4 separate regions of the Homo sapiens genome follow, and regions 1, 3 and 4 are each reported to be linked to region 2. The links are microRNA targets in miRTarBase. Many come from high-throughput screens and were not tested one by one. Region 2 holds a microRNA gene; each other region holds the end of a gene's coding sequence. Distances are from middle to middle.

Region 1 (3,125 bases), not on the chromosome of region 2:
CGTAGTGGCACACAAGGCAAAAAGCCACCCTGAGGTGCTGATTGCAGAAGCTCTGGCTGCCAATGCAGGCGCCCTCATCACCAGCACAGATATCTTGGGCACTAACCCAGAGTCCCTGACGCAGCCTTCAGATGGTCAGGGTCTTCCTCTTCTTCCTGAGCCCTTGGGAAACTCAACCTCTGGAGAGTGCCTACTGTTAGAAGCTGAAGGGATGTCAAAGTCATACTGCAGTGGGACGGAACGGGTGAGCCTGATGGCTGATGGGAAGATCTTTGTGGGAAGCGGCAGCAGTGGAGGCACTGAAGGGCTGGTTATGAACTCAGATATACTCGGTGCTACCACAGAGGTTCTGATTGAAGATTCAGACTCTGCCGGACCTTAGTGGACAGGAAGACTTGGGGCATGGGACAGCTCAGACTTTGTATTTAAAAGTTAAAAAGGACAAAAAAAAAATCTAAAGCATTTAAAATCTAGTGAAATAACTGAAGGGCCTGCTCTTTCCATTGTGGATCACAGCACACACATACATACACCCTCCACCTCCCCATCCCCTGTTCTCCCTCTGTTGCTCCCCTTATAAAATTGATGTTGTCTTTACCAGAAAGGTAGACAAAAAAGAAGCAGCAGCAGCTCTTAAAGTGAGGGTTATTCTCATACTCGGTTCCAGCCATCAGCAGACTTCCTGCTCATCGGCAGATCCCCCTTTCCAACCTGTAACTCTGATGTGCTCTGGATCAGCTTTTAACTTTTAATCATATATTACTGTCTTCTAAATCCCTTCTCCTCCTCTACTGCTGCCCTATGGTTCTGGCTCCTACCCCCTGCGGCACACTTATCTTCAAATACCATAGAATTCTAATCTCTGGAGGCTGGCAGCTTGACTTGGCACTTTAGGGCCCCTTAGCAGGGTGAGCTGTTAAAACAGCACACATCTCTCATCCCCTCTTCCTTTATTCCCCCCTGGGTTTCAGAAAGGAAGGATATATGGGGACCACCTCCCCCTTCTTTGATCCCAGCATCTCAGTCCCCCTCCCAACCCTCCATATGGCTCTCAATGGTGCTCACTTGCTTGGAAGCAGGCTCCCAATAGGGAGGGGGCTGCCCTCTACAGTCTCTTTGACTGTAAGACAGGGCTCTGTATCAGTGAGACGATGAGAAAAGTCCCAGGCTAATGGCAGAAATTTGCACTTTGAACATGTGTGTTTTTGTGTTGTGGAACCTGAGATTCCTTATTTATTAACAGGAAGTCTGATTTTTTTTTTTTGGAGTCTTTGTTGCTATATTTTGTGGGGCTGGGAGAGAGAGATTAGATTATTTTGACATGGGATCCCTTCCATAACAGGTACTTTGAAGGCAAGACATAGGGTTGAAGAAGCACAGCCAGCCTCTGAAATCATAGCTCTCCAGTGGCTTTTAAAGAAAGCTGGTCCTCAGCACTAACAAAATCACTACAATAGCCTAGTGCTTTTTTGGAAGCCTTTTTAGGGAAGAATGTTAGGTTCATGGTAACTAGTATGCTCTTTGAGATTTTTACAGTGTTGAAACTTAAGAATTTTGAGAGGGTGAGGAGGGTTGTTCAGAATCTAAATTACAGATAGATGATTGTTTCTTGTGAATTTGTTTCTTTTCCTTTTTTTTTGTCCCTACCATTTCCTTACATTTCCCTTGGGGCCCATCTCTGGCTCCTTGCTTTTTGTTTCTTGCTTTGCTTTATCAGTTCATTCCAGCTCCCTGTTAGTGAAGGACACTGCTGTTAGTGAAGGAACAAAGTCTATGAGTCCTAAAATTTTAAGTCAAAGAAAACTGCTCTGTTTCCCCTTTAGTAACACTTCTGAAGAGGAAAAACTTCAATAGCCAAAGTTAATAATCCTATATAATAATTGCTTTGGCTTTCACCTAAAATTCTGGGCATCACAATTTCCTTGGGATAGAGGTTGTGTTGGGGAATAGATTGCTTATTGCTGTTCACTGGAGAGAAAAGGTAGTGTTTTTGTACAAGGTCATACCGCCAGAAGCCCCAAATCCTATTTTGGCTCATCTTCAGGTAAAGAGTAATTCCTATCCTGTGTGCCTCAGAAGCTAGAATCGAAGGCTTACCCTATTCATTGTTTATTGTCAGAAATGCATGATGGCTCTTGGAAAGAATGACGTTTTGCTGGAAAAAAAAAAAAGAACAGTTTGTGTTTCACAAACATGGCTTATCAATTTTTTCAAAGAATTCTTTTTTCCCAAAAAGAGGAGTAACAAAATGTCATTTCTGAAAGAGGCTTACTTTATACCAACTAGTGTCAGCATTTGGGATGCCAGGGAACAGAGAGTGAGACACCTACAATCACCAGTCTCAAATGCGCTATTGTTTCTTTTCAGAGTGTTGCAGATTTGCCATTTCTCCATAATATGGGGATAGAAAATGGAATAAAGATAGAAGGGATGTAGAATATGCTTTCCTGCCAACATGGTTTGGAGTCGACTTTGGTATATTGACTAGATTTGAAAATACAAGATTGATTAGATGAATCTACAAAAAAGTTGTCCTCCTCTCAGGTCCCTTTTACACTTTTTGACTAACTAGCATCTATATTCCACACTTAGCTTTTTTGTCACACTTATCCTTTGTCTCCGTAAATTTCATTTGCAGTGGTTAGTCATCAGATATTTTAGCCACCTACACAAAAGCAAACTGCATTTTTAAAAATCTTTCTGAGATGGGAGAAAATGTATTCTCCTTTCCTATACCGCTCTCCCAACAAAAAAACAACTAGTTAGTTCTACTAATTAGAAACTTGCTGTACTTTTTCTTTTCTTTTAGGGGTCAAGGACCCTCTTTATAGCTACCATTTGCCTACAATAAATTATTGCAGCAGTTTGCAATACTAAAATATTTTTTATAGACTTTATATTTTTCCTTTTGATAAAGGGATGCTGCATAGTAGAGTTGGTGTAATTAAACTATCTCAGCCGTTTCCCTGCTTTCCCTTCTGCTCCATATGCCTCATTGTCCTTCCAGGGAGCTCTTTTAATCTTAAAGTTCTACATTTCATGCTCTTAGTCAAATTCTGTTACCTTTTTAATAACTCTTCCCACTGCATATTTCCATCTTGAATTGGTGGTTCTAAATTCTGAAA
Region 2 (3,125 bases):
TCCAGCCTGGGCAACAGAGCAAGACTCCATCTCAAAAAAAAAGAGTGGTCCAAAAGTGGGAATAAACTAGCAATGGAGATGGCAACTTAGAAGATTAAGTGGGCGGGTACCATGGCTCACACCTGTAATCCCAGCACTTTTGGAGGCCAAGGCAGGCAGATCACCTAAGGTCAGGAGTTTGAGACCAGCCTGACCAACATGGAGAAAGCCCATCTCTACTAAAAATACAAAATTAGCTGGGCGTGGTGGTGCATGCCTGTAATCCCAGCTACTGGGGAGGCTGAGGCAGGAGAATCACTTGAACCAGGGAGGTGGAGGTTGTGGTGAGCCGAGATCGCACTGTTGCACTCCAGCCTGGGCAACAAGAATGAAACTTCATCTCAAAAAAAAAAAAAAAAAGATTAACTAGTAGTACAGGTAAGGAATAATGAGAGCTGGGGGTGAGGACTGGGGTGGTAAAGTCTTTTTAGTCTAATAATATTCAAGATCTACTTTGCTCAGAAGAGACAAGGGAAAACTGGGAAATTGATTTTGTACCACAGGTCACACATTTGCTTTCATCATACAAGGTTATGCTTTTTCTCTCAAATGAGTTGTACATATTATGTAGCATCTATTTACTTCTAAAAAATTGAGGAATGGAGGGCCGGATGCGGTGGCTCATGCCTGTAATCCCAGCACTTTGGGAGGCCGAGGCAGACAGATCACTTGAGGTCCAGAGTTTGAGACCAGCCTGGCCAACATGGCAAAACGCCATCTCTACTAAAAATACAAAAAATTAGCCGGGCATGGTGGCAGGCGCCTGTGATCCCAACTACTCAGGAGGCTGAGGCAGGACAGTTGCTTGAACCCGGGGGACGGAGGTTGCAGTGAGCCGAGATCACGCCATCGCACTCCATCCTGGGTGACAGAGTGAGACTCCATCTCAAAAAAAAAAAATTGAGGAATGAATGTGGGAAAGAGAAAGAACAAGTAAAAGGAATTTTCATTTTCCAGCCCCTAATTGTTCTGTCTTTCTCCCAGTGTCTCCTTTCCTCTTGGGCCGGGCACTTTGGGCTGCCAGTCGGTTCACTGTTGCTATGTCCCCTGAACTGATCCAGCAGTTCCTACAGGCAACAGTTAGTGGTCTTCACGAGACACAGCCCCCATCAGTTCGAATTTCTGCAGTGAGAGCCATCTGGGGGTGAGTATGCTACCCTAGCGTGATAATTAAGGGAAAGTTGCTCAGGTTAGATATAACAAATCACAGTTTTCCAGTGTATTATGTTGCTTGGAAATCCCTGCTAATGATATCCTTCAGGGTGAATGTTGGAAGGACAGGGAAAGAAACCATGCTAGAGACATGGCTTTTGTGAGTCCAGAAGATGTCCTGTTCCTTTCTGCTCCTCTTCCTCTTTAAATTCGCTCCAGTTCTGGAATCATCTAGGCAACTCCCTTTCTCTCAATGGTGAAGAACCTGAGGTTTGGAGAGAAAAATGTTTTGCACAGGGTTGCACAATTGATGAATGATAGAAGCAGGATTAGAGTCCACATCATTTTGTTGGTTGATTATATTAGAAACCAAATCTGGGATAATGTGACCTAGAAACACTGCTTATTTTTTCCCAGTTTTACCTATCTTTTTTAAGGCTAGTGTTACTAATGGATCAAAAGTCATTTATTTATATTCCTACGCAGACTAGAAGGACCATTGTTGTTTTAAGGAATATCTTAGGCTCAAACTTAAACATCTCAACTGAATCCTATAACTACCAACACAAAATTTATTTTCCATGTGCCTGCCCTGTCTTATCTTTTGAGGCAGAGGAGTATCTTTTGAGATGCCGTGTGTTATATGTCATTAGAAAGCATTCAAGAACTGCCTGTTTTAATTAAATGGTTAATGTTATGACCATAAACACCGTCCCATCTTTTTCTGCTTCAATCTAGGTGAAGCAGATCTTTGGCTCTAAAATAATTAGAAGTATCATCTTAAGAGGCAAACTAAGTATAGCTTTTTCAGAAAGCTCTAACACCATTTTAAATGTCTGAGAAGAGAGAGCCCTAAGCTGCTTAAGGCATGAATGTTATTTTAAGGGTTTTTCTGAGTTTGTACCTGTGGTCACTGCCTGTTTAGCTTCTGACCTTAGTGAAACTTGATTTCATTGGAGAATTATCCACTTTGTGTTGTGATTTTATGGAAATGTTTGCAGCTGCAAGCTGTGAGAGGAGTTTGGTATGAATGTGAAAGTACTTTGGGTAAAATAAGCCCATTACTTTCCAGAGTGTTTTAGGTAGACAGCAGTACCTATCAGGCATACTTACCAACATTGATTCTCTCTGGGGGAGATTAGAGTACAAAGAACTTTCATTCTCTGTTATATATATAAAATATTTTGTTTGTTTGTTTGTTTCAACAAGTTTATATTACTTTTATAATCAGAAGAACTGTGAAGAAAACTTTTATTTTTAATGTTCATATCTCTTGGACCACATGGGTAGTGGTTTAATAGTTTTCTTGAGAGATGTAACAGATATCTCTGTAGGATGACAAAAGCTGTGGATATGTGGGCCAGAGAAATGGACACTCATATATGTTTACAAAATTTTATATTCATTGTCAAACACTGGATTCCTTGAAGCCTATCTGTGGATCCCGATTAAGAACTGTCCTATGAATGGATCATTAGCTATCTTTCTTTCAGTCAAGAGTTTCCCTTTGGTCATTTCCTATTTAGTTTACCAGCCAATTGCAGACTGGCTTATGTCCGTGTCACACTATTGGAACTATTTTTCTTTTTTTTTTTTTTTTTTCTTTTCTGAGACGGAGTCTTGCTGTCTGTCGCCCAGGCTGGAGTGCAGTGGCGCGATCTCGGCTCACCACAACCTCTGCCTCCTGGGTTCAAGCAATTCTCCTGCTTCAGCCTCCCCAGCAGCTGGGATTACAGGCATGTGCCACCACACCCAGCTAATTTTGTATTTTTAGTAGAGACAGGGTTTTTCCATGTTGGTCAGGCTGGTTTCAAACTCCTGACCTCGGGTGATCCGCTCGCCCCCACCTCCCAAAGTGCTGGGATTACAGACATGAGCCACCGCGCCCGGCCTGCAGCTGTCTTTTCTAATGTCACTAGTAACCTTTTAATGAT
Region 3 (3,125 bases), 27 Mb from region 2:
GTCTAGAAGCAAAGTGATAAAGGGATAAAGTGGATAAATGGCTTAAGAAAATGTGGTGTATACACATCATGGAATACTATTTGGCCATAAAAAAGGAAACCCTGCCATTTGCAACATGGGTGAATTTACAGGACATTTATATTAAGTGAAATAAGCCAGGAACAGGACAAATATCACATGATCTCACTTATATGTGGAATCAAAATGTTGATTTATAGAATTAGAGAGTAGAACGGTGGTTAGCAGGGGCTGAGACAAGAGGATTTGGGGAAATTCTAGTCAGAGGGTACAGAGTCCCTGCTATACAAGAATAAACTCAAGGTCTATTGCACAGCATGGTGACTTCAGCTGATAACCGTGTACTGTACGCAGTTGGCCCTCTGTATCTGACTGTCCCACATATGTGCAGAGGGAGGGCTGACTGCAGGGTACTTGAGTATCTGCAGATTTTGGTATCCATGAGGGGGTCCTGGAACCAATCCCCCTTAGGCACAGAGGGATGACTGTATTTGAAATTGCTGAGTGTAGATTTCAAATATTCTCACCACCAAAAAAAACATGAGATGGATACATTAATCTGTCACTCCACAATGTACATAGATATCAAAACATCACACTGTGCCCCATAAATATATAATTTTCTTAAATAGAAAGAGGTTGTGATTGACAGGGTGGGATGTTGCTGGTCAGCTAGGTTAGGTGAGGATGGTGAAGCCACTGTCGGACCTGGTGATGTGGAGACACTGATGTTGTGGGAGACTCTGCCATCAGGACCTGTCCGGGCAAGCATCACAGGTGTGCAGGGCAGGGGCAGGGATGCTCAGGGATGACAGCAGACTGCAGCAGGCGGAGACAGTGAGAAAGACAAACTGGAGGTCTCAGGGTCGGGATGTTGTTGGCGTGCTGACAAAGATTCTCTACTTGGCCAAACTCTGGCCAGGCTCTGGAATCTTCTCCTAGGGCCCTCTTTGCCCTTTCTTATGAAATCCAGTTTTAGCAAGAACCCTAATTTGGTTAACCATAATATCTGACCACCCTCAATGGTACCTGACTGGGTTCCTCTCTGACCGTTTGCAGCCAATGTCTGATCGCCCTGCCTGCCTGCAGCAAGGACTCTGTGAGGTGGGTTTAGCCAGAGCCCCCTCAGCCCTGATGTCTCCTCACAGTCATTCCCACCCATGGACCCTATACTGCTCCTCGCTCCTCCAACCCCTGCCCTGCTACGTCGGGGTGGAGCCCCATCTCCCCCCAGGCCCCAAGGAAAGGGTCCCACACCCATCTCAATGGTCCCAATCAAAGTCCTCCTCACCATGCTTTAGCACGTGTCACGAGGAAGTTTCCTTTGACACTGGAGGGTGGCCAGGGCAGGGGGAAGAGGCCAGGTGGACACACGGAGACGAAGCAAACGAGCTGACACAAACCCACTTTATTCAGCATTGAGCCAGCCCACACGCTGGGCAGGTCAAACTCACAGACATCGCACCAAGGGCCGGGGACTCAGAAGGGCTGAAAGGCTTCATCTGGAAATGGGCACCGCTCACAAGCCCGGCTATCCCCAAATCTCAACAACTGTCTGCATCTATGTCCCCGACTTTGCAATCCTGTCCCCAGTGCTGAGTTTCTGTCGACTAATTTATCTACACACAAGGATGCTGCAGGCAACTGAGCTACTGCTACAAGCTTTGCAAAATTCAACTACTAAAGGAAATGGGAGGAGGGAAAGAGCTAGAGATAACAGCAAGATGAGACACGATGGCAGGGCCTGGAGATGCTAAATGGGGTTAGCCACCTGCCAGCCCCCTCACCCAGGGAAACAGAGAAAGAGGCTTCCTTCTGCGGAGGCAGGTGGAGCACAGGGAGGGCTCCTGGGAGGCACAGGAGTGGGGTGGGGGCCAGGAAGGGGGAGGTGGACAGAGCGACTTGGATAAGGCTGGGCCGGGCCCACGCCCACCTCAAGAGGGGGGCCGCCTCCTCAGGAGGCATCAAGGTGCAATCCAGTCTTCCTTTCTCTCCCTGAAGACCTGAGTTCCAGCCTTCACAGAGCGTCATGCGCATTCTTCTTTCTGGATGCTAACCCCAAATCCGACACTCAATGGTGCACCTCAGGTACCTGCCAAGGATCTGTGGGCCCACATGGAAGGTGCAGGGTCTGGGTCCCTGGATGACGAGGTGAGGGGCAGATGGGTGACCAGGGAAGGGCATGACCCAGAGCTGCCGGGACTCATGGAGGATGGGCTGTGGCTAGGACTTCAGGAAGGGACGGGCACAGGTGGGAAGGGTCCTCAGGTCCAGCCTCTACCGGGAGGTGTTTGCAGCCCCCAAAACACGCCTCGGGGTGAAGGATAAATGGACATTGTTGAAACACGCAACTATGTAGATGGACCCAAGGCCAGGCGCCTGCCACGCTTCCCTGGCAGCCACACGCTGACACTTCCCATGGAGATGAGGATCCATCCTCCTGCCTCCAGCTCTGGGACTGCCACGGGTTGGCGCCATCACTGCATGGGAGGGGAGAGGGAAAGACAGAGAGACAAAAAGAGAAAGAGACACACAGAGTCAGAGACAGAGGCAAAAGGAGAGAGCGAAAGAGAGAGCGCACATGAGACAGCGCATGAGGTACTGTCCTGAGCACAACAAACCCAGGGCCTGGCCCAGACTTCCGTCTCCCCAGGGCCAAAGCCTTGTCACCTATGGCTGGCACGGGCAACTGAACCGTTCAGGGCCATCTGGGTTGCTGCAGGGTCTGGGGTTCAGGCCAGGCCCTGGGCAGAGGCAGAAGAAAAGCCCTGAGGTTGGGTTTCTTGGCTGCTTCTGCCTTCAGGACCCCAGGGCGAGGCAGGAGCCTTCCATGCTCGGGCACTCGGGATGCCAAGTGCCCTCCTTTGTGAAGGTCAGGGACACCTCAGACCCTCCTCAACTTAAAACCCCTTCCCATCACCTTCCCTGACCACCCACCCATTCCCGAAATTCAGCCCTGCAAGGCCACGGCAGTGGGAGTCAGGCTGGGCTTTTAAGCCTTGACTTCGGGCAATGGTCCCCCAATGGCTCGCTGCTGCCTGCGTCCACCCTGGCCCGATGGTGGGCAGACCCAGCGGGGCTCCCGCACCTGCAGCAGCATGCTGAGG
Region 4 (3,125 bases), not on the chromosome of region 2:
CTGATTTTTAGCCATGTAAAATTTTATAACTAGAAAGAAATGTAATTTGTAGGAAAATTATAATTTATAAAAATTAGTTTTATTTTATAACCCAACAGATTGACTTTACAAAAATAACAACTTTAATAAAGTTATCAGAATTTTTTAGATTTTATGGGTTATTTTTACTGCTTGCAGAGCCATTAGACACAGGTTTGAGTGTTGCATCATGAACATGGATAAATATGCCTAGGTGTGTGTGTGTGTGTATATTGCTTATATACACATAAAAAAACCTTTGTGAATGTCTAATAAGATTTTCCAGGTGTTTATAATGGTTACTAAACTGATAACATTTTCACTTCTAGGTTCATGTCAATCTACTTTTAATGGAAGCACGAATGCAAGCTGAACTTCTTTATGCTCTTCGTGCCATAACTCGGCATTTGACCTGAAGTATCACCCAAGGAAAATGTCATACATGTGTAAAGACCTTTCACATAAGATAAACATTGAAGCTATTTGTGATATAGCATCAAAAATTATTCAGTTCTCTAGTGTCAAAGTTTAGCCGTTTGTTTTTTTTTTTTTGTTTTTTGCGGCTGTAATGTGCAATGATGTGTTTTATTTTCCTTGATGCTTAACATTACTAACAATTGCAAAAATAATACTGAGGAGCACTACTTTGCATTGTTTGTAGTTGGAGTTTTGGATACTGATCATAAATCATGAATCTGGCGTATTAATGCTTAACTTCAGCGCCTTTGGGTTGTGTGTATGTGTATTTTTTCTCCCCCCACCCCGCCCTTTTTTTTTTAAGAATAAGGACAAGTGCTTACAATCTGCTCAAGCAATTGTTTTTCAGATATTGGAATTCAGCAAAGAGTGACCTCTCTGGCCATTCTAAAACTTTAATGTTGTGTCCTAAATCTGGTGGAGGAAAAGCATGCGCTGTTGAACCAAGCTGCTCACTGGACACATATTTGTGTCCCCAGGAGATTATTTGTCAGGCACTGTTTTTTATTTGTTTGTTTGTTCATTTATTGTTGTTTTACTGCTATTGGCGATAACATGAAATGTGATACAGCTATTGCCCATAATTTAATGTGAAATTAATCATGATGAATTCTATAGCATGCTACTGAAATGCCAAATTCAGCTATTTTCTTTCTCTTCTAAAATGGAAGTTTCAGTTTTCCATATCAGATGTATATAAGTGGAATTATAACACAATCCTATCACTGACAGTAATCCTCAGTCACCTTAAATAATCAGTGCTCACAGTGCTGCTTACAGTTCATTTAGTTGGCACATATAAACCTGTACCCACACAAGACTGACCAAAAATTTTCTTTGCACATTTTTCCTTTCTCATAGTTTTTTTCTATATTTCGTTAAGCAAAGGAAGGTTAATATGCCTATTTTTCCTGTTAGGCTTTTAGAAATTATTTTCCATGACTTTTGTTCTTATAATAGGTTAGACAGTTTATTTTTCAAAGGTAAAAATTGTGTTTCTATGCATTAATGTGATTGAACTACAAAAACAGAGTGCAATATGTTCAAAAAATACTCAACTAAACTTTCCCCCTGTCATATCACTGCAAAAGTGTCCTTTTAAACAGAGCCATAAAGAAATTTTTTTCAAATTTCTTTATTGCACAGGCTTTTTTCAGTTTTACCTTTCTGGGATTGAACAATGTTCCTTTCATAATGCCAAAGCATTCCCTTCCCCAGAAAAATCTCCTTGGACAACTGGTTTAAAAACGTTATTAAGTCATAGGGGAGGAATAAGCGGCCAAAAAGTCACATTTTTGCATTGGTTTACGTTGCTTGATTAGACTATCTTCAGAGAGCACATTATGTGTTTATAGCTTTAATTTGTATTATGTCAATGAACCAGTGAAGTGCCTAAAGAGATGCTTACAACTATCCAGTAGGACACAACTGCACTGCTTTTTAAACACTTTTTGGTTAGTTAAGGGTGACTTGAATTGTACACATACATGCTAATTTTTGAAAACTTATCCATTTTTCATAGTAAATAATATAGATAAAATTTTCTGTTAGAGTTCCCGCAAATATTTCATTTTAGACTTACTTGTGATATAAGATTTAACTTTTCTTTTGTGAAAGAATCGTGAACTAGTGTTTCATGAAATCATTTTCCTCTTCCATTTATCATCCTCCTCTGGTACAATATATTGGGTTGCTTTCTTTTAGATTTTGTTCCAGATAGGAAAACAAATATGACTGTATACTTATTAACATAAGGTAGTTCTGCATTTTTGGATTCCAGGATCCTGTTTGAAATCTTCCATGTGAGGAAAAAATTACTAATATTTTTAAAGACAGGGTGGTTTATTTAAAGAGATTATTCAGAGAACTTGTGCCATATCTCGTCTGTTTTATTGCATATGCCATATGTTAACTTTTATTCAATATTACATTATGTAGATATGTAATACAAAGAAAATATTTAGGAGAATGGCAAAACACAAATGGCAACATAAATGTCCATTTGACTTACCTAACTTCACAACTTTCAAGTTGAGGATGTCATTTATTCTTGAATTTGTTTTTTTACTAGATGCTTTCAATTAATAGCCCTATATTTTTGTGCAGGCGAACTGTATAACAGGATAAAAAATGATTTGTATGTATTGAAAAGGAGGAGAAATTCTCACAGAACACCATATGAGCTTTAGACCAAAAGGGGAAACAAGGTTTAAGTAACTAAAATGGCCACTTAGTTTGTGTTTATTTTTTTCCCTGGAAATGTAAGTAGTTGGAGTTTAGGCTATGGAAATATTAGTGCCTTTAATAGATCTCTTTCCTTGCAAAGTTTCTTTTTAGCTCAGCATTGATCTATCTTATCAATAGGAAAATAAGTTGACTTGGAACTATAAACAAAAACAACACCATATATTTATGAACCTCAGTGAACCAGCCTAGAAAAATTGACTTCTGCAGGTGCTAAAGCACCTACTAATACGCAGCATGCACAGCATTTCAGGTTGTGAATACCATTTTACAACGAGTTTGCTGTTAACTCTCTTTATCCAATGCAAACTTGAAATTCTGATGCGGTTTTCCAGGGTGGTATTTTTTCAGAGTATTGAATTTACTATTTAGTAATTTATAGTATA

Evidence for each region. The annotated mature microRNA hsa-miR-6739-5p reads UGGGAAAGAGAAAGAACAAGUA and lies in region 2 at 954-975, shown strand. An mRNA with a match to its seed (bases 2 to 7 or 8) in the 3' UTR can be bound and repressed. Matches are read on the target gene's strand: a 7mer-m8 pairs with bases 2 to 8, a 7mer-A1 pairs with bases 2 to 7 and ends in A, and an 8mer does both.
Region 1: the mRNA of ZFP91 is a reported target of hsa-miR-6739-5p. Seed matches in the 3' UTR shown: 7mer-A1 at 2,225-2,231 and 7mer-m8 at 2,970-2,976.
Region 3: miRTarBase lists RNF187 as a target of hsa-miR-6739-5p. Seed matches in the 3' UTR shown: 7mer-m8 at 1,717-1,723.
Region 4: the mRNA of SESN3 is a reported target of hsa-miR-6739-5p. Seed matches in the 3' UTR shown: 7mer-m8 at 1,559-1,565.

What each region holds. Positions count from the first base shown.
Region 1 is chr11:58,617,325-58,620,449 of GRCh38, forward strand. It overlaps ZFP91 (ZFP91 zinc finger protein, atypical E3 ubiquitin ligase), which reads left to right. Exons shown (of 11, transcript NM_053023.5): 11 at 1-3,125. The coding sequence ends at 382. ZFP91-CNTF (ZFP91-CNTF readthrough (NMD candidate)) reads left to right here. Exons shown (of 13, transcript NR_024091.1): 11 at 1-244. Among named protein-coding and RNA genes, the nearest start is that of CNTF, 3.8 kb to the right of the region's middle.
Region 2 is chr1:201,862,425-201,865,549 of GRCh38, forward strand. It overlaps MIR6739 (microRNA 6739), which reads left to right and starts at 949; the gene lies at 949-1,023. IPO9 (importin 9) reads left to right here. Exons shown (of 24, transcript NM_018085.5): 14 at 1,024-1,183.
Region 3 is chr1:228,493,256-228,496,380 of GRCh38, reverse strand. It overlaps RNF187 (ring finger protein 187), which reads right to left. Exons shown (of 4, transcript NM_001010858.3): 3 at 3,107-3,125; 4 at 193-2,498. The coding sequence ends at 2,496. Among named protein-coding and RNA genes, the nearest start is that of RNF187, 7.4 kb to the right of the region's middle. RefSeq lists an enhancer at 2,562-3,125.
Region 4 is chr11:95,170,564-95,173,688 of GRCh38, reverse strand. SESN3 (sestrin 3) reads left to right here. Exons shown (of 10, transcript NM_144665.4): 10 at 348-3,125. The coding sequence ends at 434. Among named protein-coding and RNA genes, the nearest start is that of LNCRNA-IUR, 22 kb to the right of the region's middle.